Linked DNA regions of Homo sapiens. The protein of the gene in region 2 binds, or shares a complex with, the protein of the main gene of each other region. Each region holds a gene or a part of one and is shown on either strand. Other genes may lie near its edges.

The links.
Region 1: the proteins of NRIP1 (region 2) and PPARG are in contact, whole or in part, in a crystal structure (PDB 9CWN), measured with the Homo sapiens proteins. Residues at the interface, in NP_001426204.1 of Homo sapiens: Ser130, Thr131, Leu132, Leu133, Ala134, Leu136, Leu137, Ser139; in NP_056953.2 of Homo sapiens: Val321, Gln322, Thr325, Lys329, Phe334, Leu339, Gln342, Val343, Leu346, Lys347, Pro495, Leu496, Glu499, Ile500, Lys502.
Region 3: the proteins of NRIP1 (region 2) and ESRRG are in contact, whole or in part, in a crystal structure (PDB 2GPP), measured with the Homo sapiens proteins. Residues at the interface, in NP_001426204.1 of Homo sapiens: Ser378, Leu379, Leu380, Leu381, Leu383, Leu384, Lys385, Ser386, Gln387; in NP_001429.2 of Homo sapiens: Val277, Ile280, Lys284, Phe289, Leu294, Gln297, Met298, Leu301, Gln302, Lys448, Leu449, Glu452, Met453.
Region 4: the proteins of NRIP1 (region 2) and RORA are in contact, whole or in part, in a crystal structure (PDB 4S15), measured with the Homo sapiens proteins. Residues at the interface, in NP_001426204.1 of Homo sapiens: Thr499, Leu500, Leu501, Gln502, Leu504, Leu505, His507; in NP_599023.1 of Homo sapiens: Gln332, Val335, Lys339, Phe344, Met345, Gln349, Gln352, Ile353, Leu356, Pro505, Leu506, Glu509, Leu510.

Annotation. Positions count from the first base shown.
Region 1 is NC_000003.12:12,285,027-12,292,086, reverse strand, and holds the start of PPARG (peroxisome proliferator-activated receptor gamma), read right to left. Parts: upstream 3,018-7,060; 5' UTR 2,953-3,017; intron 1-2,952. UniProt on the Homo sapiens protein: Nuclear receptor that binds peroxisome proliferators such as hypolipidemic drugs and fatty acids.
Region 2 is NC_000021.9:15,054,975-15,062,010, reverse strand, and holds part of NRIP1 (nuclear receptor-interacting protein 1), read left to right. Parts: intron 1-7,036. UniProt on the Homo sapiens protein: Modulates transcriptional activation by steroid receptors such as NR3C1, NR3C2 and ESR1. Also modulates transcriptional repression by nuclear hormone receptors.
Region 3 is NC_000001.11:216,720,398-216,728,180, forward strand, and holds the start of ESRRG (estrogen-related receptor gamma), read right to left. Parts: upstream 3,033-7,783; 5' UTR 2,903-3,032; coding exon 2,847-2,902; exon of another isoform or gene 2,843-2,846; intron 1-2,842. UniProt on the Homo sapiens protein: Orphan receptor that acts as a transcription activator in the absence of bound ligand. Binds specifically to an estrogen response element and activates reporter genes controlled by estrogen response elements.
Region 4 is NC_000015.10:60,487,754-60,491,308, forward strand, and holds the end of RORA (nuclear receptor ROR-alpha), read right to left. Parts: 3' UTR 531-3,555; downstream 1-530. UniProt on the Homo sapiens protein: Nuclear receptor that binds DNA as a monomer to ROR response elements (RORE) containing a single core motif half-site 5'-AGGTCA-3' preceded by a short A-T-rich sequence.

The DNA.
Region 1 (7,060 bases), on a different chromosome or scaffold from region 2:
CTCAAAGTTATTGAGGTTTGAACTACAGTGAACTATTAACATTGGTAAAAGAGTTAGCTATGACATAGATATTCATGAAGGTTCTTTTCAGAATATCAGCTCAATTAAATTCAGGGTCATGGTCACATCATTTAAAGTACATGGGTTTGCTCATAAAGCCTTAAAATCATAGCAAAAGAGCAAGCAATAATAACTGCAACACTTTCTCCGTTTCAAAGATGACAAAATTGAGAGAAAGGATAAGGTACTTGCCTAAGCCATAATAATTGAAACAGTTGAAAATGTAAACAGTCATACTCTGAATGAAATTCTCGGCATTAAAATATTGATGTGTACTTATTGTTGAAGAGAAATTTTAAAAATATGTAAATCTGTTTTTACAAAATAATTTAAACATATACTATTATTGATGACAGATATTATCTAAACATCTACAAAAGTTTTCCCCAAAACATGGCCTATTGCATCTGAATAGATTTTATCCCAAGAACCTACTTTAAGTGCATTAAATAAAATTTAAAACATGACATTTTAGTTAAATAACAGCTTTAAAACATATACTATATTACTCCCCCAATCTACCTCTGTATTTTGAGAAAACGCAAACAGTAAGTAAGAACTTCCAAGAAGATTTCAAATAATCTTAAATCTAAATTTTTGATTTAGAACGCTATGAAACTAACTGAAGTTGATACGCTGGGGATATCTACACTTGCAAGATGGTTGTTCACAACTCTTACTATTCTTTTGTGGAGTCAAATTAGATCCGTTTCAAAGGACCTTTGTAAGCAATTAAAATCACTGCGCTTTTTGTTGCTTTGGGATATTAAGAGAGAGTAAGCAAAGTGGAGATCTACCAGGAAAAATAAGCAAATTAGAAATTCAGTTGTGGGGGGTGCATATGTTTACGCTTACACACTAGTGACTTCACCAAGTTTTCTCTATTAGTGAGTTTTTAAAAATCCTCTACAGCTAATATTTATTTAGTGGAATCCTATGAGACCAAAAACTTCTTCCAGTACATTTGCCACACCTAATGACATACTGTATTTCCAAGTCCAAGTGACAACGAATCCAGCAGAAAGACACCCACAATTAGAATGACCAACTCTGTCCTATGCATTGGGAATATATAGATGCTAGGAAAGAAGTGAAAGTGTGGGCCAGAATGTGTGAAACATTCAGAAAATGTCATTTTAACATATTTTCCTACTTCATGAAAGCCTCTTGTTATTAATAACGATTTTATAACCTGAAAACTAAATGAAATGTATTATTAATACTTGTATATGTTCCACGGTTGTGCCTTTTACACAGCTTTCATGCACATAATTATCTTGATAATTAAGGTTAGTGGCTAACATCCTTATTGTCAGAAAATTACAGAAGAAAAAAGTATTTGTTTATATTTATATAACACTGATTAAAAACAATTCACTACGACCATTAGTAATCCACTTCTAATTCATATTCCTCATGTCACACCTTTTCTCTTGTACACATTTTAAATGTCATAGGAATTTAGAAATATTGCAATTTAAAGCATAATCTAGAATTTTTTTAAAAGTAGTTCTGAAACATACAAAAAAATGAACATTTAGGAAACTAGTCCTTCAAAGAAAATATTATATTTTATCATTAAAAATATCAATCGCAAAAATATTTTCAAAGCACTTAAGTTCAATAAAGAATATGAGGCCGGTGGACATTTTAGTTTTAATTTTAAAAAGAAATTATATTCTTTTTAATGTAAAGAAATGAGAAAACGACATCCAAAAAGTCTTCAGCCTGGGATTCTACAAAACTTTATACCTCACTGATGCCATGGTTTTACAGCAGTTATTGTTTAAGAACTAGAAACAAACTTGTAAATATGAAAAAAGTTTTTGATTTTAAAAAAAACCATCATTAGTGTTTCTCTTTTCCTTCAAGTGAGTTTTAAAAGACTGAGATGGCCACCAGTTGATTCAAAGATCTCTTAAGACATAATTATTAGCAAGTTAACTATCAAATATCATATAATTTAAATCAGGGAGAAAAATTATGTGAAGTACACAAGAAGACAAAAATGGACAGTTTTGTAATACACTTCACTTTTTGGCTGAGACATTACCTTTAAAGTTTCGTATATTAAAGTGAATATTCAAATACACTTTATTTGGAATCAAATAAAGTGTATTTGATTCCAAAGTGAATCTGATTGAAAATATACTACACAAAACTTACTTTAAAACTTGAACAGAATGTTTTGATATATTACTCCAAATGCTAACTGGTAGCATCTATGAGTGTCTTCTGTCAAACTCCCCTAGGAGTGAAAGGTATTTCTTTAAGAGAAAAGCCACAGTGAATGTCCATGCCAGTCCCTATACCAGAAAGGTTTTCTAAATCATCTAGCACCATCAGTTGGTTCTGTTCTCAGTCAGCAATCGATCACTTAGCAATAGACAGAAAGACTGCCATAAAATACCTGAAACCTGTCGAAGATTTGCCCAGGTCCTTTTAAAGAGTTAAGTTATTCATTGTTCTCTTAATAAATCCAGTTAACAATTTGTCTCACGAATGACAGAAACAGTTGGGGTTAAAATAATGTACTTCAAAATCAGAGGTTTTCCAGGAATAGGTATTATACAACTCAGTTTATCATTGTCTGGTTTTATATCCAAATGATAATTTACACAAATAAACTTTACATTTTGTCCCTAATCTTGCAAGGAAAAGAAGAAAAATTTTAGTTTCTTCATGGCAGACGACTATTTTTGACTTGATTTCTTTTATAACAATGACACTATTTTTACAACCGTTAGCCTATGACCCAAGTGAATTGGATTCTTCTTATAAAACAAGAGCACTGCAAAAAAAAATGATATAAGGATAATACAATAATTTTGCAAATTTCGGACCTATCACCAACACATTCCAACAAAATGCAATGAGAGTGAGCCAACTCACCTAAGGAAAGGGAATTAAGCAGAATGCAGAAATGCAGGCTTCTGGTCACCAGCAGAGGTTAAGGCCCCTTCCTTACCTACCACTGACCTTATATAAAAGCCGCAGCTCGGTTACTCCCCGTTTCTGACTCCTTACCTTAGGCTCCTCCCTAAACACCGAGGCGTAAAGTACCACGACTACACACCCACCTTCCACCAAGGGACCTGAGATTTCTGTTAACCTCTGCTGCCTCTACCCCCCTCAGTTAGGCTCCCAGGAGGAGTGGTCAGCGCCTGGCACTTGCAGGAGCCCACAAAGCAGCGACTTCGCCTTTCCAGCCCCCCGGGGTGCGGCTGGGGGTCCTGGCTGCGCGCTCCATCCGCGGAGGCACGGAGGCACCCAGTCCCCGTCCCCAGCCCCTCCGCCGGGCGTAGGGCCAGCACAACGCGTCAGGGCACAGGGCCTGGCCAGCTACAAGCGCGCCCCTCGCTGAACGGTCCCCCGGTCCCCAAGCGGCGGTCGCCCCTGGGCTCTGGACAGCGAACGGGACCTCCTCCTCAGCAGGGGTGCCGCGCGGCCTCAGGACGGACGCACGCGGATCTTCGCTTCCCCGGGTCCAGACACCCTGCTCCAAAGTTCCCCCGGAGCGGCTCCCGACGCTTGCGCACCTCCGCCGGGGACGCGGAGGTCCCCGTGTCCCCGGCTCCGCGCCCACCCGGCGCTCTCCCGAGGGGGGCTGTCCTGGAAGCCGGGACGCACCGGCTCGCGTCCACTCGAGTCGGCACCGGCCGCGGCTCTCTGTGCCCGCGCCCTCCGCCCCTAGTGCGCGCTCCGGTAGACGCGACCCTCAGCCCGGGTGCCCTCAGCCCAAGACCCCTTCACCCGGTCACCCGTGAGCCGCCCGCCCGCGACCCGTCAGTCCGGGTCCTGCCGGACCATGACCCTGCCTCAGCCCCGGACCCCTCAGCCGAGACCCCCTTCTCCCCAGCTCTCATCCGTCTGGGACCCCGTCAGTTCCCGTTTCCTCGGCCCTAGCCCCCAGACCCTCGGCCCCAGCCCTCCGCGCCCCCTCCCTGAGCACTCCCCGCCCAGCCAGCAGCCGGTTCCCGAGCGCCGCGGGCACCCGTACTCTGACCTGCGGCCACGGCGGCGTGGCGCCCCTCTCCGGTGTCCTCGAGGCCGACCCAAGCGCCCCAGGCGGCGGCTGCGGCTCGGGCTCGGGCTCCGAGTGCGCTGGGCCCCGCCTGCCCGCGGCGGAGCCGGGTCGGGCCGAGCCGGGCCCGGCGCGGGGGCGGGCGCGGGCGCCGGCTGGGGGTGGGGGTGGGGGTGGGGGTGGGGGCGGGGGCGGGGGCGGGGGCGGGGGCGGCGGCGCGCGACTGGGAGGGAGCGGCCCGGGCTCGGCCGCCGCCCGCGCACAGTAGGGCCCACGGCGGGAGCCACCGGCTTTCCCGCGTCCACTCTCTGCCCCGCGGCAGGCTACCTGGTGTCGTTTGCTCCTCGCCACCACCGCTGGGAGGCGGCCCAGAGAGGGTCCCATTTCCGAGGAGGGATCCGAAGTTTAGGGGGATGCCCCCGGCCAGGGCCGGTCTGGGGAGACCGAGGTGTGGGGCTCCCTCTCGGCCAGAGTGGCTTGCCCTTCACACGGCGATCGGCCAGGCCGTCTTCCCAAGATGTTCTTTCCAGTGACATTTTAAAAGAAAATTTAATTAAAGCATATTTCGGGTCCCTTGGTTTTCTCTTCTGATCGGTGGTGCTGCACACTTTCAGAGTTCCTTGCGTTTGTAAGTTACATGGTTATTCACAAGTCACTGACTTTTAATCATTAAAAACATTTCTTAAACTCATTAACAGAATTTCTTAAATTTCTTAGCAGTGTTTCTGACACCGAGGGACTCAGACAACATGGGTGGGGACGGAGTGGGGACGTGAGGCACGAGAAACAGTTTCTCATGTGTTGGGTAGACAGTGACCTTTTCTTTTCCTGCCACGCTGTCCATCGTGACCTGTCCAAAGTGGGTTGGCAGGTGCGCGTTCAGAAAGCCGCTGGTCTCCTGGACTTGAGGCCCCTCTTTCCCTTTTTCCAGTCTTATTTCTGGAGCATACTGTTCTGGGCCTGATCCTCTTTGGGGAGGCAGCGATGCCTGAGGCCCCCCACTTCAGGAAGCTTATGGACTGTATGCTGGGGTGCTCTGCATTTCTTCCTAGCTTCATTGTGGTTATTGCCCCTCTGGTACAGAAGGTCCTCGTTTGTGGTTGAAGCAAAGTTTTGCGAGGATGGGTATCACAAGGGAAAATATTCAGCGCTTAAATCAACATAATCATGTCCTTCCTCCACAGCCCCTAAGATAAGAAGCTGAGAGCCACGGATCTTACAGGGACTGACCACTGAAAGACCATTTATTGGCCTGTGATTTAGGTAGTCAGGTTGACCCGGATCCACAGTCTCCACTCAGGCGGAAGTGCTCCGTGCGTCCTACTTCTTGTTAATTCCAGAGTTCCAATCTGCTTTTTTTTTTTCTTTCTTCCTTTCTTTTCTTTCTTTCTTCCATGAGACAGGGTGTTGCTGTGTCGCCCAGGCTGGAGTGCTGTGGCGCAATCACGGCTCACTTCAGCCTCGACTTCCCGGGCTCAAGGAATCCTCCCACCCCAGGCTCCCAAGTAGCTGGGACTACAGGTGCACACCACCATGCCTGGCTAATTTTTTTTTTTAATTTTAATTGTTTAGTAGAGACTGTGTCTTGACATGTTGCCTAGACTAGTCTGAAACTCCTGGGCTCAAGTGATCCTCCTGCCTCAGCTTTCCAAAGTGCTGGGATTATAGGCACCAGCCACTGCGCCTAGCCTGCTTTTTAAAATCACAGCTTTATTGAGGAATAATTAATATAATCTAAAATGTAAATACCATAGAAGTAAAATGTACAATTCAGGCCGGGTATGGCAGCTCACGCCTGTAATCCCAGCACTTTGGGAGGCCGAGGCAGGTGGATCACTTGAGGCCGGGAGTTCAAGACCAGCCTGGCCAACATGGTGAAACTCCATCTCTACTAAGAAATACAAAAATTAGCTGGGCGTGGTGGCACGTGCCTGTAATCTCAGCTACTCGGGGGGCTGAGGCAGTAGAATCGCTTGACCCTGGGAGGCAGAGGTTACAAGCCGAGATTGCGCCACTGCACTTCAGCCCCAGAGCAAGACTCCATCTCAAAAATAAATAAATAAAATGTACAGTTCAATGAGTTTTAGTTTATTGACAGAGTTGTGCCATCATCACCAAATCTACCCTTAGAACATTTTCATCACTCCAAAAAGGAACCCCCTCTCCATTAACAGTCATTCCACCAACTCTAGATAGAGATATTCTTTCTCTATAGATTTACCTATTCTGGACAATTCATATAAATAGAATCATAGAATATGAAGTCCTTTGTGACTTTCTTCTTTCACTTAGCATAGTATTTGTGAGGCTCATCCATGTTATAGCTTATATTAATATTTCATTCCTTTTTATGGTCAATATTCCATTATACACATATACCACATTTTGTTTATTCATCCCATGAATTGATGAATATTTAGGTTGTTTCTACTTTTATGGGCTATTATGAATAATGCTGCTGTGAGCATTCATGTACAAGGTTACTTGTGGACATATATTTTTATTTCTCTTGAGTATATACCTAGGGACAGAACTGCAGGATCATAAGGTAACTCGGTGTTTTTGAGGAACTGCCAGTCTGTTTTCCAAAGTGGGCACACCATTTTACAATCCCACCAGCAATGTGTCAGGGTTCCAGTTTTTCCACATCCTTGTCAACACTTGTTATAGTCTTTTTTATTTTAGCCAACCTAAAGGGTATGAAGTGATATCTCATGGGGTTTTGTTTGTTTGTTTGTTTTGAGACAAGGTATTGCTCTCTCACCCAGGCTGGAGTGCAGTGGTGCAATCATAGTTCACTGCAGCCTCGAATTCCTGGGCTAAAGCAATCCTCCCACCTCAGCCTCCCAAGTGGCTGGGACAACAGGTGCATGCCACCACACCAGCTAATTTTTGTATTCTTTTGTAGAGATGGGATCTCACTATGTTGCCCGAGCCGGTGTCTCATGGTTTTGATTTGCATTGCCTTGGTGACTA
Region 2 (7,036 bases):
AACTAAAAATGAATTAACGCATATCTGAAAGCAGAGTTTGATAGAAGGTGACAGATGAGGCAAAATATGCCAATCTAATGGAACAAATAAGATAAGGAGATATGCCATCCTTGACTCTAGAAAGATCAGAGGGAAGAAGATTATTGTTAATTGCACAGATTCTATTGCAGACCAATGCTAGAAGACAATGACATAGAAGTAATTTTAAATCAGAGTGGCTTAGGATATATGAGGTTAAAGGAATTTGGCTTTTAATTTTAAAACGTAAAGAATGTAAGAAACTCAAAAGCTCATGTTCTAACTGTTGTTTGGGAAAAGCAGTAATAGTTTGGTGTATCAGGTTAAAAGATAATTTTGCTCAGAATGAGTTTAAAATACCGAATTTTTGTCAAGGAAAACATTATTCACTTTAAATTGTGCTAGGGTCAGTTTTGCTTTTCGCATTTGAGATTGCTTGATACAATTAGTTTTTAATGTAGGTTAGTAAGAGGAAATGGTAGTCCCTTCCCTACCATTTCCCTCCCTCCCTTGCTCTCTTCCCCTTTTCTAAAATAAACACTGTCTAGATCTTTGGATATTTTCTTCCATGAAAAACTGCCTTAGTTGCAGCGTTCCTTCTTGGCTGTGGGTGGGGAGAAGTTTCTTCACTCTTGTACTTTTCCCTTCTGCCCCTTCAGGTGATTGATACACAATCAGAGTGGGTTTTGTTCTGTGTGTTTGTTTAATAACGATTTACTGTTACACGGATGAAGACTGGGAAAAAGCATTTGCCGTTCTAGCAAAGTCCTGTATACCCATGTCTTCCAACTGGAGAAATATTTTCATTAAAATAATCTTGACTACTGTTGAAAAGTCAAAGAAAATTTTCAACAAGATATGCTAGGGTCTTGCAGGATATGAGTTTGAATCTGTGAACTAAAAAGGTTCAAGTTGCATTTCCTTAAGTTGTAGTTTTTTCAGGGACTTTTGGGGGAGGGGGAATGAGCAGGCTCATCCTGTAGTATTTAGATAACACAACAATTAGAGAAATGTAACACCACTATGGCCACTAAGACTTGAGAAGGTAAAAACCAGGAGTGTCAGATGGTGAAACAGGCCATTGGAATGGAACTGAAGATTATGTCGAGAGGTTGGAATGAACAAAAAGTAAATGGAGGAGAGAGATCTAGTTTCTGTATCCTGTTTGCATCTGATGCTGAAGCAGAGACATGAATTGCTGATGGTAATGGATTCTATTCTCTTTTAGGAGGCCAGCAATATTATATAAATAGTGGTTGTTTGAGGGAGAGAAACGACAAGTTCCCCTTTTGTGCATGTTCACACTTTGTTTTGAATGTCTCTGAGATATCTTTAAAGTAGAGGATCAAAATTGGGTACCAGCATGGAATCAGGAGTTATACTTTGGAGGAAAATGAATTAATATTAGATCACATTTTCTTTAATCTTTTAAGATCTGGAATTTTACAAGGGTCTTCATCAACAGGGAAAACCGTGTTCTGAGTGCTAAAGTTTGGGTGGTGAACTGGATAATTCTTTTATAGGATCTCTGATAAAGATAAACATGTAAATAACTGCAGAAATAATGCTTTATTTAAGCACATTACCTATGATTCATGGTAGGGGGAAAATAGAGACCACAGAAACTCCTGAAGTCTTATCAGGGTTTCTTTGCAAACTATTATATGGATGCCCATCTGTTGTTTTTTCTTGAAATTTAGTGTTCAGGTTGATGGATACTGAATGTATAGGATTCTGAAGGTTGGAGTTTATTTAAAACAGAACTTTCCTTTTGTTTTACTACGAGTTATGAAATGCAGTTTTAATTTGTTGCAATAAATATAGAAACTGAGATGAGTAGGAATTTATACTAACTTTTCTCACTGTTATGGTACATACTCTATATCATGAACCTTGAAATTCAAATTGATCCCTACACTATCTTGCAAATATTACAAATGAAGAATTACAAAAGTTGTGGTATTTTAGCTTATCAAAATGCACCCGAAACATAAAATATTTTTCTTTAAGTTCTTAAATCAGAAGAATAGGAAAGAGTTGAAAATAAATGTGATACATTTTATCATTATATTAGTATTTTGTTGAAATTAATACCTTGAATCATGCTATGGATAAACATTTAGCCTAGAACTCTAAAAGTAGTATAATGTGAATCAGATTTAAAGAATTGAGAAGGCTGGCAATTCAAAAATAGAGGAAGAAAACACTCTTTGGGGTTATGAAAAAAAGGATCCTCTTAGTATTAAGATTTCTTAAAAAGCTATACACAGTTTTAAGATAGATTGTTCTTGAAGATAATGGGGCAAATAATTACCTGCTAAACAAATTATGAGTCCTGTGATTCTTTTTTTGGTTGAAATAATTTCAAGAACTCCAGCATATGTTGCAGTTTTGGCTAGAAAGGTGATTGTGACATACATCCATTCATCCATTCTCCCTCTCTCCTTCCCTCCTTCCCTCCCTTCCTTCTTTCCACTTTCAATACATAGGGCTGGGGTAGCAAAAAAAAATAATAATAGTAAACAGTTTTGTAAAACTTGATAATAGAATTATCTGACAGGGTTAATAGTTGTGTTTGAAATTCAGAGCTAGTATGGTTCACTCTCCCCAGAAAATAAAATTTTAATTTCTTACACCTCAGGGAATAAAAACTCTAAATTAAAACCCATCTTGCCTCTTTAACTTTGTGTCACTTAGCAAAAATATCTTTAAGGATGGAAAGAAGAGACCCCATGTGTCTTAAATTCCAAGTCACTGTGTGACTAAGCTCGGAGTTCCAATAAATATTAAACTAGAATTCTGCTGGGAATTTGAGTCATCCGCTTAAGCTACTCCTGGGACCAAGACAACTCTGGTTGACCTGATGTTGATGTTTATTCAGAGCTTTGGTGGAAAGGAGCCTCTCACCCTTGGACTTCTAATTAACAAAGTCATTCCTTAGTCACTTGTTAAGTGATAGAGCTACTCCTTGTTTTCAGGCCTGTAATTTGCTAAAGGATTGAGCACAACAGAGAAACTAAGGAGTTTGGAGCTTCTGCTGTTTAGAGTCTGCTTTCATTATTTTACTTTTACTTTCTTATCTAGCTATGTGAGGGTACTATGTAAAAGTCTGGTGATTTGCTTTAGATACTTAAGAGAAAAGCTTAGCTGTAGTCACATATAGTGTCTAAGATGGCTTTCCTTATAGTTACATGTTTTTAATAGTTGAGTTTGCCTATACTCTTCATAACATGTGCACATGTTAAATATGTTACTGCTTTAAAAAAGCATTTCATTAGTAAGATGGGGAATCGTTTATGTACAATATTGAAATGAGAGTAGTAGTATAATGGTGTGTTTGGTAACTAACAGGACACAATCAAAATTTGAGAATTAGAAGTTCAGAATGAAAAAAGGACTTCTCTCTTGAGGAATCTATCTAGAAGTTGAGAGATAGCAAGTGTTTAACAGAGTGTAATGATTTCTGAGAAGCATGCTTTTAAAGATTTTTTTTAAATTCCTGAATTTATGAGTTTATATTATAATAATCTATAATAGAGCAATAGATTTATACACTGGAAAAGAAACAAATTAAGGGAAGGAGAGAATACACAATGACATGGAGGACATCAAGAAAATATGTTTGGAAACATGTGAAACTCTCCAAATGGGAAATAAATATTCTTGAGAGAAATTAATCACAGTTGCAGTTTTTCTCCTAAAGGGACTGTTTGCACAATGGGTTATGTAGGCTCAGGTTTGATTTTTGAAAAACATGTTAAAAAATAGTATTCCTGTTATTCCACGTTTATTTTTCGAGTTTAGGTTCTGCTACTAAATCAAGATGATACAGATAAAAGGAAAGCCCTTTTATCTCCCCCGGCAGCATCTGTTGAATAAGGGGGTTATATTTGATTTCTAAATTCTAAAATTCTGACTGTACAGCAGTATATGCCGTTGTTGACAGTAAACAGTAAAGATTTCAAGCCTGTGGTTTTAAAAGAAGAAGAGATGATTGGGTAGAAACTTGGAATATTAAGAAGTTGTTTAGTTACTTGGCTGTTGCCTTTTCCTGTTTTGTTGGGAGGGGGAGCAGGGAAAGGAAGAGTATTGAACTTTTTGGGGCAACCGTTTTGTGCCAGACATTGTGCTGGAAGCTTTACACACATTTTGTCTTTTAATCCTTCCAGTTCCCCTGTGACATGTAGGTATCATTTTCTCTAGTTTAGAGATAAGGAAACCTAGTCTGAAAAATGCAAGAATAGTTAACTTGCCTGTGGTCACATGGCAAATTTCATTGATAATTTGATTTTCTTAAAGAATATGCCATTGTTTGAAGAAAAAACCAGTTGCCATCTGACATTCAGGAAGCCGTTAAAAAACCTTGCTCCCAACCTGGTAGCCATAAAACTCATGCAGCATTTGCAAGCCTCATAGCCTGGATTCTCCAAGACCAGGCTCTCTGGGAAGGCACATTGTTGCCAGTCGATGATTCTGCAGCAGCTTATGCTAGTTCTCAAAGCGCTGATGTCCTGCTACCTGCATTGCGCTGGAGGGAAATGTAGTCACCAAGGGCTGCCGCACAGGCTCTTTTCCCTCCAGTGCTAACTCTTCTGAAGTGTATCACAGAATTACTGCGGTGTTATTTGAGGCAGTGAAAGCAACTATGTTTCTTTATATAATTCATTGAAATAGCTTGTCATGGTCTTAAACTGAGTGTTCCCAAGGCTAGTTATGTTTGTCCACTTCAAGGAGCAGTTGTAGCAAATTCAGAACCATAGCTCTTCCTGGTTGAAAAGTTACAACTCTTGACTATTAACAGTTCTTAACATGATTTTTTTTTTAATTACCCTATCTTCACTCACAACAATTTTGTTAAAGACTATCCTGTGCTGATAAACTGCTCTCTGAAATGCAAAGAGGAAATTAACAATGTATTTGTGAATTGGAAGGAAGTGGAAGCAGAGAGATGAGGAGTAGTTGACTTTATTTTGAGGGTAGACTGTGTCAGGAGGGAGATTGTTGAGTGGGGGAGCTTTGTGGCACATAGTACATTTTTAAGTACATACCAGGTACGTTCTTTTATTGTTAAAGCCATAAGAAATGGAGTTATGAGCTTCTCCACCTCCTTTTACTTGCCTCATTTAAAATTTATGGAATTTTTGAACCTAAAAGATTCAAGCTGAGTGGTTCCCTATACACTGAAAGGTATAGTCAAATTGAAACTATATTGGAGACACAAAGATGAATAATAAGACGTGTAAACATAATATTTTCTAGGGTGCTTTGGATTTTGAGTTGCCAAATCATGTTGGAAAAGCAAGAGATTTGTATAAAAGCTGCAAAGGAAACATCTGTGTTTTGTTTAGAGAATACGTTATATTTTGGCCAAATAAGAAAAAAGAGAAATTGTCAAAGTGAACAATATGGGGGGAAGAATGTCTTCCTAAAGATCAGAATGAACTTATATTATTTCCTTAACTGATCCATGCTTTTTAAAAAAAAATGAATTAAAATACACTGAATCTATGTGAAGCCAAATATAAGGATTGAAAACAGTCTTTTTTAAATTTACCATCTGATTCCTTTCCAATATCTGGATGTTTGCTATTATTGTGGCAAGACCCATTGTTAACTGTATTGCTAAAAATCTACTTTTATCTATCCTGGTAATACTTGACTGACCTGAGTCAAAGTCACATTTTCTTTTTTTTTTTTTTTTAACTTTGAATTTCTTTTGCTTGGGCTTTCACAAATTGAAGTTATTTCATAGAATCGTTAGATTTTTCAGGTTGGAAGAGAATTTGATAAAAGCTACGGCTGCTCTGGATTTAAGCACACCTATCTTAGAGGCACCTTGTCCTCCCCCCATTTATCAAACAAGTTAGTTTTTAGATGCATCTTTTGTATGGAAGAGCACACAGTTAGTGTAGACTATAAATAAAATAATGATAAAATGCTACCATTTAGTGCTTATGTGCCATTTTCTTTCCTTTTGGGTTTCCTTCTTTATTTCTGTTTTGTCTTTACTCTGTTTTCCTTTTTATTTCTTAATATCTCATTCATCTTTTTTTTTAATTGCCAGGGGATCCATGTGATACAATGGGGTCAATAATTACTTATCTTCCTGTAGTTTTTGTTATTGCTGTTAAGTTAAAATGCCCAAAACAGTTACTATCTGCATTTTACGGAGGAAGAAATTGAGTCCTTAAGAATTTAAAGACGTTTTGAAAGTCATTCAGCTAGCAGTTGGGTAGACCTAGGATGGTCAGTCAAATCTTGATTTATTTCACACTTTTTTGTTTATTTTTGTCAAAGCAGTCTCAGAAAGAGGGGTTTGTGTACCAGGTGTTAAGGAATAGTTAATAACCTTTGGTGATGGATCCCGCAGTAAAATCCAAGCTAACCCCACAAAGGGATCTATAATAATAAGAACTGGGTCTTGAGACATGAAACGAGAATTGGCTGGCTGCATCACTTTTGTTCTAGTACCTTATTTTCTTCTCATGGTCTTCATAAAAGTCTTAGGATTTGTTGAATATTCTAGTACTTGAAATGTAATTTCCAGGCTGAGAATTTAAAAAAAGAATAGTACAGTTATGTACATGTTCATGCAGTGGCATTGTTTTACATGTTACGTACATTTGGAATTTTATTTAAAAAGAAGTAGGGAGACTTGCTATTTATTTGCAGACAAAGAGAGCCAGATACCTTTAGTTGACCAGAACACTCACAGGCCAGCTCTACTTTTTACTGATGAGTAGTATTCCAACACCATTAATGTAGGTGGTTGGGTCTGTTGGTTCAACTGGAAACATATCTCAAAGTTTATGGACCCCATTCCTCTATTCTCTTGAGAAAGGTAACAAATAAGATGAGGGGGCACTGTGTGGACCAGTGGTGATAATGTGCCATGAACCAAGTGCACGTTGGTCTACACCCCTAGAAAAGAGAGCAAGAGAGAAGAAACCTATGTGTAGACCTTTTCATGGACCACACACTGGCCACGTTCCTGATGTTGGTGAAACAAATTGGAAAG
Region 3 (7,783 bases), on a different chromosome or scaffold from region 2:
CATGAAGAAAAGTCATGTGAGCTCCAAGTCTAGAGTTTAAGTATTCTTACTTGAAAAAATAAACTTAAAGTGTCTGTTCAGAGTTCTCAAATAATATCACATCTAAAGTGACTTGGCCAAGCTCTTATCATTCCCTAAAAAAAAGGCATCCCCTCTGATCTCGGCTTTTTTGTTGTTGTTACTGTTACTGTATAAATTTTTTCTTTCTGCCTATTTTATCACCTATAATTTGACATTATGGAATTACTTTGGGATTGTCTTGTTTTTTAATTAGTATAGATTTTAAAAAGAAGAGATGAGAAAAAGAAAAAACATGAAAACCCTGAAACAGAAAGAGTGAAACATACAAAATAAAACTTGTGTAGCTCCAAACACGAATCTTAAAACACGAAACTTAAATTTTCAATGTCTGGACTTCAGTGATCAGGCTGAAATTTACTAAACTGTTCCCTCCTCGCCTTGTCTGTTTTGGAGTGTTTCAGTTGCCTTTCCTTCTTCCAACAGCTGTGACAACTGTTAAAACAGTCAGTAAAATTAAGTCCGCTCTATAATCCTGTAGTCAATGTTACATTTTAATCAGAGGTTGAAAGGGATTCATGTGATGAGCACACTCATTTAGAATGATTAGACTGACACATATGTCAAAATGAGCAGATATATTATTTTCATCTATTTATGCTATCAGCTATTACTGCTATTAAATGTGAAACAAGCTTTCAAGTATTATGTTCTTTAATGTGCTGGCACATTTCCTAAAATAAAAAAATACATAGTTAGAGGTTAACATTTTAAGCTCTCTTAATGGTGGTCAATAAATGGTATGAATCTTTTTAACAGCCTCCAAAGCAGAAACTGTCCAATATTTGCCCCTAAAACTGTATAACTCTGGTTTCATTTCTGTGTATACACACACGTGATGGGGTTTAACCCGGTACAATTACTATGAATATTAATAGCATGTATAAATTCTGTGGTTTATTAATTGAGACAGAGAGGCAGATGCGTTGCTTAGCGTTAGATCTTTCTGTCTGTCCAGTGAACCACGTAACCATCAGAACTGCATCCAGACAATAAATCTGTATTTTTTAAAGATGACTTTTAATTGAGCCCAAAAGAAAGCTAGTTTGAATCTTGCGCCAAAGCCAAAAGGACATGTGCCTTGACTTCATTTAAATGCATCTGCTTTAAGAGGCTTATCTAAACGAATTATTCAAATTAGCTATAAGAAGTTAAATTCAAGGAAACTACTTCAAAAAGAAGCCTCTGGGGGATTTTTAAAGTTTGTTTTCTTTATTTATTTACAAGAGAAAGTTCAGAATCTGGGCGTGCTTGGATAAGACATTCTTCCTGACACGAAGACGTCTTAAACTCTCCAATTCTACAGCCCGAAGTACACTAACCTTCAAACTACACTTGAGCGGGCAGTCTTACCTTTGTTTATTTTTCATTTTTATTTTTACACATCTTAAGGTTGTTTCTTCCCTTGAGTGTTTCAAACTGATGCAAGCACAGCCTTATAATCTTTCAGTTCCTCCTAAATCCATCTCTTGGCTAATATTCCCTGTGTGAGCATGGATGTGGGTGGATGTGCATGTGTGAGCGTGCATACACACACACACTCACACTCACGCTCAAACATACAGGAGCAGCCACTGAGACTGCAAGTCACTTTTCATCTCTTACTTAATTACAAAGCAATGCAATATGCAGTCACTAAGGACAGCTAGTGGACATCTACCTATAATGCACTACCTCATCTTCTAGAGTTTGATATTTTCTTCACAATCTATAGAGAGAAATGTTTGCCAAGGGCACTCTTTTCAGAATTATAACAGTTGGTATTACTGTAATGTGAAAGCAAAGCAATATAACTGACTCAACAGAAAGGGAGATAAACCAGTGACAGCTCTCGTGATATACTAACATTTTATCTTAACAGTAGGTTGAAATTAAGTTTATCACCTACTCATTTACACAAAAATGCCTAACTTACTTCTCGTACCCCCTACTCACTCCCCCCCCTTTAGTAATCTAAATATATATTTCCATGTGCATAAAGATATCCATAAATACTAATTAAACTGCTTGTAAGAACGAAAGTACTTTTCTATATTTTCTGGACACAACAAACGAGACAAATCCACACTCTGAGCAGTATTTAAGGGGAAAATTTTAAAGTCACTACTGTTTCTTCTTTAGTTTTTTTTCCCCCCTTAAATATTTATAATGTGTGAAAATCTCATGTTACTTAATGGACTGATTTGTCAGTTAAGTGCTGACTTAACGCTAACCATGCAAATAACATTATTCTAGCTCAGAATTGCATAGGGCTAGCTTTTAAATTGTTCTCTGAAGGAGAATTAGTAAATGTGCAATTTTGCCTCTAACTCTGCGCGGTAAGAAATGACAAGGAGCTGAAAATATCTGTCAAACTGCAAATACATAAGAGGCCCTCAATAGTATAAATCATTTTGAATATTGTATTTTAAAACATCTTTCCTTGGGAAAATGGGTCCTAGTAAAAGATGCATTTTAACAGTTCACTAAGCATTTGTGCCAAGTGCCTATTCTTAGCACCTGAATAAGAAGTGACTGTCACACAGCTGTTTTACTGACAGTCACTGAGCTTTGCCTCAAAGGTAACATTGTAGTCAGAGAACAATTCTCGACTTACTGAATTAGGAGATCACCCTCAACACAAAAGACACAAGACAGACACAAACAAGCAGTCGTGCACACAAAATACCCAGGGCATTACCTGAATCAGTGTGTAAAGATATAGTCTGTCCGCCCCCACCCCCGCACCCCCACGACGAGTTTAAAAAGGAAAGAAAAAAGGTACCTACTCTTCCTCGTAGTGCAGGGAAAAAGATTCAGGAAGGCAAAGTTCTACCGAATCCATGTGCGACCGGCAACCATTATTTGTGCACCCCAGCTATAAATCAAAGTTTCCTTGACAGAGCACAGTGCAATTAACACAAATGTTCTCCTAGTGACAAGCCTATAGGCACAGCCAGTTGGGACCAAAGCTCTCACACTCTCCTAATCAAGGACTTAAAGCCCCGATTGGAGCTTATTAATATGAAGTAGGGCTTTACATATGCAGTCCCACCGGCCCAGCCGCGCAGCCGATTGGGGGGCCTCTGCCCAATCAGGAGGGAGGCGACGGGAGGCTGCACGGAGCGAGAGGAGCCAGGCAGGTAGGCAGGGTGCAGAGAGCCGAAGGGGGCTGGAAACTGAGAGTGGGCAGAGAAAAAGGGAGCGGAGAAGGGAGCGATTGAAACGCTCCCAATACACACTCTCGGGTTTGATTTTTTTTCCTCCCTTCTCTCTCTTTCTTTTTTTTTTCTTCTGGGAAGCTACAAAAGAAACATAACTAACTTAACTCTCTAAGCACTGGAGGGATTTGCCTTTGATTTCTAACCTAAGATCTCTTTTGCCTTGAAAAGGAGAACTCACGCAGACTCTCAGTTAATTTGGGAAAGGATTCTGCGGAAGGTAGAGAATTAAGTTTGTCCTGCCGTTGTCTGTGTTTTTATTACACCGGGGGCCGCGGCTTATTTGGTGCTGTACTTTCTCATGTATTCCTAATCATGTCTTTTCCTGTTTTCCTGATGTATGCTGGGCATTAAAAATAATAATAATAAAGGCATTCTTCTAAATTGTTTGAGCATGTGAACTGGGATCGTCATCTCTGAGGTGGAATGCAGTTTTACACAACTACAGAAGAGGAGATAGTGACAATACAATTTGAAAGAATGCCTAAGTAAATTATATGTGTAAACCTTTCTATACCTGCGACTGTCTCTTTACATATAGATACAACGCATAGCTTTTCAAAACAACGGTAAACAGCCGCAGGACAAATTGGCTTCTTCAGTTTTAGGGGTGGGGAGTCTGAGGGCTGTGGGGGTAAATAGCGAATTAAATCTCTCTCGATGCATTTTGACAAAATAAAGACAGCATTTTTTTTTTTTTTTGTAGGGAGAGCATTACTAAACAGTGCACTAAAAGTATTCTTAATTATATGTATATATTTCAATACAAGCTTCCAAACTAGGAGGCATATAATTTTATATATGATTTTACCCAAAACATCCTGCTTTCAAATAAAACACAGTGTACACATTTGTTTCTATACATAAGGCACCCTATATGCTTTAAAAAAATCAACCCAGAAACATTTTATAAACCATCACACAGTCTGGTCACTATAAGAACTAGTTTCAAACAGATAATAATTTACAAAACTAAGAATTCTCAATCAAAAGTGTTCAAAAAAATAAAAATAAAAGGAGGATATAAGAGGACAAGTGTGTTTTTTCCTCCTTCAATTGTGTACACCGTGTCTTTAATTTCCATATAACAAAGAGTTTGCTTAGGTCCTATTTTAATCTACAGGATTTTTTTATACTAGCAAATGTACATTGGAATAGATACCAGCTATTTATGGCAAAGAGATAACTGCTACCTTATGGAGAGTGAAAAACCCACAATTTTGATATAATTCAGCTCTACTGCTTATCAACCTTTTACATCTTAAGTCCTACATGATAGAAATAGTATAATCTTTGAGATCAAAATAAATTAGTTCAGATATTCATCGTATGTTAAATTCACTAAATTAGGACTCAACTCCCTTAACCCTCTCAAATTTTCTAGGTCTTTAAAAAACCAAAACACTAAAATAGAGCAGCCACATTAAAATTCAGAATATAAAAATGACAGACATGATTTGGTCCCCCCACAGAAGAAAGCAATTTCACTGCCTTGTATTTAGCTATATCTAAGATATAGGCCTAATTCCTTTTATTTGTGTTCTAAATGCATACAAAGTTTCTAGATCAGAACTCACATAGCAAAAACTGTGCCTCAGAATACTGTATAAAAGCAGGTAGTAAAAGCTTAATTACCAGTAGCATTATGCTGTCTATATTGTTAAATGTGAACTCTGCAATTAAGATGTAAATTTGGTTGTGAGCAGTGAATTAAAAGAGCTTTGAGATGTAGAAGAAAATCCAAGCATTCTGCAGACACTGAGAGAAAAAAAAAATTGTCTATTCAATCTAAAATAAGACACGTAATCATTTTACAATTAAAAAATAAATAAAACAGGCATTTTGCAAAAGAAACATGATTTTTCTAAAATACACTCAAAGAAATATGGAAGCTAATACTGCATTACAAAGACAGAAAAACATCCTTTGATTCATATGATTACTATCGTGATTTCTGAATAAACTAAAATTCTCAGGGTAATTAATAGATTCAATTGCACATACTTTAAAAAAGATACACACACACACAAAAAAGAAAGAAACTTTCCTTCTTGGTTTGGCTATGGATATTTCTTTAAAAAATATAAATTATTTAATGTACTCAATGCATCTTAATGTACTCAAAGAATGCATTCCGATTTTGCACCGGTGCAGAATCCTGTACTGTGTTCAGTTTCTTTACATTATGCTGTGACAGAACCTCTTTATTACTCCTTTGAAATGGCTTTTTAAAGACAAGATTTGTAGTGTATTTACCGGTGGATCTCAAGTCACCAAATGTCGTACAAGTGATCTTTAATTTCCCATCATTTTCTTATTTCCCTTTGGGTACTTATTTGCCCTCATTATGATCCATTTGACTTCACTGGTGTATATTTTTAAAGATATTTAGACTCATGCGTAAGTCATTGTTCTGTGCTCACAGAGATACATGTACAAACATACATAGTGTCATCCCCACTGATTTTTCACTAACCATATTTCATCTACGCAAGGTGCAGTGTTCACTGAACTCGCTGCTTTCTGAGTGACCAGATGTGTACTAGGTTTGTAGACTTGGATATTTTCCCCTTGGGATCAAAGTATCACCTGTACAAGTCAAGGACCTAAAGACTGTACTTACTGTCTTGAATCCAGTTTAACCAATTTAAAATTTTTAAAAATCCTCTTCACTAAACTTGTGAGACAGCTTCCAGAATATTTTACAAATACACAGCTCAGTCATCTCAAGAAACTTCCCTGGTCCCAGATTTTTCTCACCTTGCAGGAGAAAACAATGGATAATCATGGGAAATAAATGTGCCATGAGTAATACTGAGCTTAAACCTTCAAGAATCTCAATTACAAAAAAAATCTGGAAAAACAAATAAACAAACAAACAGATAAACAGCCTAGGATACACATATATTCCCAGTCTATACACTTCACAATCTTACCACAAGGAGTCTACCCAAATCAAGAAAAACTGAACCAAACAAAAGGATCTCTCATGATTGCTTCACAAAGAATATTAATAAATTAGTTAATATCAGTCTATTATGCATCAGGCTCTTGGTGTATGCATAGTTTCAATCTCTTCTTCCTTAAACAATGCAGTCATAAATATCCAAACAAATTCATTCTCAGTCCCCAACTAATGCACAGTCACCAAGCAGAGAATATACTTCATTTCTATTTCAAAGAACAGAATGAAAACAAGCAAAGCTCAAGTGGAAACAACAGGAAGATTCCTCTAGTCATATACACCAGACATTTTATTACATTTAAGTCAGAATCATTTCTTGCAACATTCTAACTAGGAATTCTTATGTTGCTAGAAGGTGATGAGAAATGCTTAGTCTTGCTGTTATTGCATATTAATAGCTATTTTTAGCTCCTATCTTTCTTTTCTGAAAATTAACAGGACTAACCTTCATTAAAATGTTCAAGTTTATCACTGTCATTTTTGAAGCAGGTTTTTATTTTATATTACACATTCATCATTTACTAAATATGTAAAACTAAACAAGGCATAACAAATTTAGATTTTCAAATTGCCTAGTAATCTTTCCTCAGGATTATAAAATCTTTGAAAAGCTGTTTAACTTTTTGAACTATTTTCCCTGCTGTTTTAAATGTATCATATATAGTATAATATACCATCCTGCAAAAAGCAAACCAAGACAATTACAAACTACTATCTTTAACTCCAAAAGACAACCTTGGGAAAAGAACCTAAAATGAGAAGCAAGGCACCAGGCTCCCTTCTACTCCTCATGAGCTGTGTGGCCATGGGTAGGTTGCCTCACTTATCTGTCCCTCATTTCCTCATCTGAAAATTGGGGTTTCTTTTGTGCTATAAACCTGCTTAAGAACACACCTTTCCCACTGAGAACACGCAGACTTCTTTCGAAGTCAGGATGACTACTTTACACTATATTACCACCAGCCCTCTATCAATTCATCATTCCTCATTTTCTGTTGCCTTTCATTTCTAGGGCACAGGCTTTGATATTTAAATTATTGTCTCGATTGGCAAGAAGCAATCATTTCTGCTGAAAGTGATCGCTTCCACAGAAGCACTAATAAAAACCCTTCCTTTTGACAAACCTCTTGTCCTATAAATCCATCCCATTCCCAAATTATGGAGCCTATATATAAAAAAAAGCCCATTCTCTGGGGAGCAACTGTCTCACCGACATAACACACTAAACTCTTTTCCCACTGTTTGTGAAAGTTGGAGGGGGAAAAAAAAAGAATCAGAGAAAGACAGAAACTAATAGAGGCAATTCAGTTTCTGTTTAATTAATTCAGGATTATTTCACCTTCGTTTTGTCAAACTAATAATACACATGGTGAAATGTCAGTAAAAATTAAATTATAAACTACAGTAGCTCCAATGGGAAAACTGACCTTAGTTAGGTTGTATTTCCATCATACTTACCCTGGTAAGATACCAAATGCATTTTACAGTATCCTACAAGCTTTCTATAATCTGCATGGCATGTATTTACAGAGCAATAGTT
Region 4 (3,555 bases), on a different chromosome or scaffold from region 2:
CACTTTGGGAGGCCGAGGCTGGCGGATCACCTGAGGTCAGGAGTTCAAGACCAGCCTCAACATGGAGAAACCCCGTCTCTACTAAAAATACAAAATTAGCCGGGCGTGGTGGTGCATGTCTGTAATCCCAGCTACTCAGGAGGCTGAGGCAGGAGAATTGCTTGAACCTGGGAGGGGGAGGTTGCGGTGAGCCGAGATCTCCCGCCATTGCGCTCCAGCCTGGGCAACAAGAGCGAAACTCCGTCTCAAAAAAAAAAAAAAAAGGTGCTGTGGTATACACCGGTGCTTCTCACACTTTAATGTGCATACGGATCACCTGGGATCCTATAAAAAGGCAGATTGATTTAGTAGGTCTGGGTAGTGCTGGGATTATCCAGTTCCAACAAAGTCGCAGGAGATGCCGTGCTGCTAGTCTGGACCACACTTACCTACTCTCTCCTAGACCCTTCACTAGAGACAGGATGTAAGCTAGGAAACTATGTACAGTCCAATTCAATAACCAAGAAAAAAGAAGAAAAACAAGGCAAGTGTTCCATTAGAAGCTGAAGTTTTATTATAGGATAACAGTACATAAAGCACATCTAAAATTGATGTGTTCAATGCACTTTTAATAAAGGTAATGTAATATTAAAGGTACAGTTTCTAAGTACAATATAACAACATTCATATTAGAATGAAAATTGGAGTATTTAAAAGACAACATTAAATCTCTCTTTTTTGTACAGCTTGTATTTACAAAATGAATCAAAATATTTTTTTTTTAAATTCAGGACTCAATAAAATAAACAGCTGGAAATAAGCAGACTAGTGTAAGAGTGAATTGAAAAGAAAACCCAAGGTAAGTGAAAAGTTGGACGATCCTCTAATAAAGATCATTAGCAAAGTTTTAGTTCAATACTAGTTTTAGGATTCCCATAAATGGCTTGCATTTTTAGTGTGGCAGAAAAGGAGTTTTTACATACTGTACACAAAACAGACAGCATATATTTATAGGTACAGTATTACTGTTTCCAAACTTGCATGTATATTTACAGAAGGCTGAGTTTGTTTACTCAAACAGAAGTTTGTGAAATTTGTGTGCTTAATCCTCAAGACCTACACACAATTAGAATCAGCATTTCATGTGGTCTTTTTAAATGTGGCTTTAATACTTGGTTGTAGAGGAGAATGTTAACCGTAAGGCTTGGCTTACTTTGTAAATTTAACAAAACAACCCAGGAAAAACGTTTTAATTGGGGCACACTTGTTATCATTTAACAATTGTCAAATGCTGACATGTGCTAGCCATTGTGCAGACGCAAAAAGATACAATCTCTACCCTCAGGAAGCTTAGGATGCTAAATCGTGCTTTAAAAAAAAGGTTTCAATCTCTTTCCAAGAGAGGCAGTTAAGGAATGATGTGATTTATATTAAAAGAGATTTCTCCCTCAACTGTAGCCAATCCACTTTAAAAGGTTAACTACTAGCATTAGCTCTCATTAACCACACAATTGCATTTATAATTAAGGTAACAGCAACTCTTCCACAAAAATGGAAAATGTCTAGAATTGTGGATAAATATTGCAGTGCATGGAAGCCAATAATCATGGCTTGAGAATTTATCACCTTCAGTTACAAAAAGTGCAGTAAACAGAAACATTTGCTCTACATTTATAAATTGCTCAAAAATCTTTGCTAAAGATCTTACAAATTCAGTAATATTACAGAACAATTCTAATCAATATTTAATAAGGTTAACTACATCCTTAGTTAGATATTTGATAAACTTTGCTTTTCAATAATGCCAGTAGATCTTGGGAGAATGGGTAGAAAGGCTTAATTAAGCTACTTATTAAATAACTTTGAAAATGAAGGTCCTTCACTCAGTTCATGGAACTGGTTGAGGTCATACTGAAACAGAACATCCCATGTCGAATTTGCTTTATGGCCCATGTTATGGCAGAGGACGTCTCCATCCTTCTCATGACTCAGGTAGGAGGGGAAAGGTTTATTCTGCCATCAAGCCATCTAGGATATTTTATGTAAATGCCCATTATCTATAATAGGAGCTAAGAATACAACTGTGTTAGGTGCCAGTAATACAATTCCTTAATAAGAAAAAAAAGTATATTACTCCATTAAACAAGTTTCTTTAGGATCTTGAAGGCCTGGCAAATTATTTTTCAGCTTAGGAGATATGCTGTAAAGCCAAGTAGCAAACATAAAGTAAATGCTAATAAGTTTCCATATAGCCATATTTATAAACAAATTCACCCTATAGATGTCAAATATCCATACTAAGGAAGTAATTTTATCCTAATTAAATACACTCTAGAATAATTTATATAATGATATTATGTATTTAAAGAGAAAAGCATGTCCCAAATCCAGCACTCTGATACAGCTGCCAGTTGGGCATAGGTAGATATATATATATATGTATATATATACAAATATATAGTTATACTCAGTGAAATTAACAAGACCCAAAGGTGGTATTGTCTAGGAATAAAAGGGATAATTTTTGTTGTTCACAAAAGTAACTTGTCTAGCACCACACATCAGAAAAACACAAAAATAGCACACTCTAGTTCTAAACAGCTATGTCTAAAATAGATTATATAGTAAAACCGGTATTATACAGCATATTGTGGATTTGATAAACAGATAAATATTTGCACTGAGTAGGCTGTTTATAATATAACATTTTCTTATCTATACAGAATGAAAGCCAAAAAGTTAACTGTATAGAGATGTGCAGAACAACATTAAATATTATGACTCAAAAGCAGGGACAGGTAAATTTGAAAGAAGAGTAAGAGAGAAAATGTTTACAGGCCGTTACAAGTTCTTAAGTTAATAGTAAATAAGGAATCGATTGCTCAAGTTGAAGAAAGCAGTAAACAAGAGATTGCATTTACATGCAGATGTCTAAAATTTGTATTTTTTAAGTCTATGCACAAAAGTCATTTGTTTTATTGCTTGACATTCAGTTATGGCTAGATTATTTAACCTATTTTTTTTGTACTTTGGAAACAAGAATATTGTTAAAGGTGCCATAAAAATGGACAACACTGAAAACAGTTTGCAAATAAACCACCTAACACTGCAGTTCTTTATACATATTAAAAGCCTTGTCTGGGGTTTGTCATATGTTAAATATTATTTAAAGTGGGAAAATATGTTGTAGCTTGAAGCCTCCCATTGGCCCAAACATCCAATACAAAAACACATCTCCACAAAAGGAGCAGGCAGACAATACAGGTACATTTATAGAAGCAGCCAGCTAATGTCCTAATGTTTAAAAATTTACCACTGTTTAATATGAGATTTCAAACTGTGTGGATAACAGGAGAATTTTGGATTCAGGAAGATGTATACAGTACATATGGATTTTTTTTGTGAAATCATTTTCACTATATTGCTCAAGAATTATCTGCATTTACATATGCAATCTGTTCAGTGATAATCAAGTTCCTAGAAATAGTATTCATCCACATTAAAGTAATAATGATGAAAAAGGAATCACACATGAACACTGGAGAGAATTTAGTTGTTCTTAGAGAACAACATAAT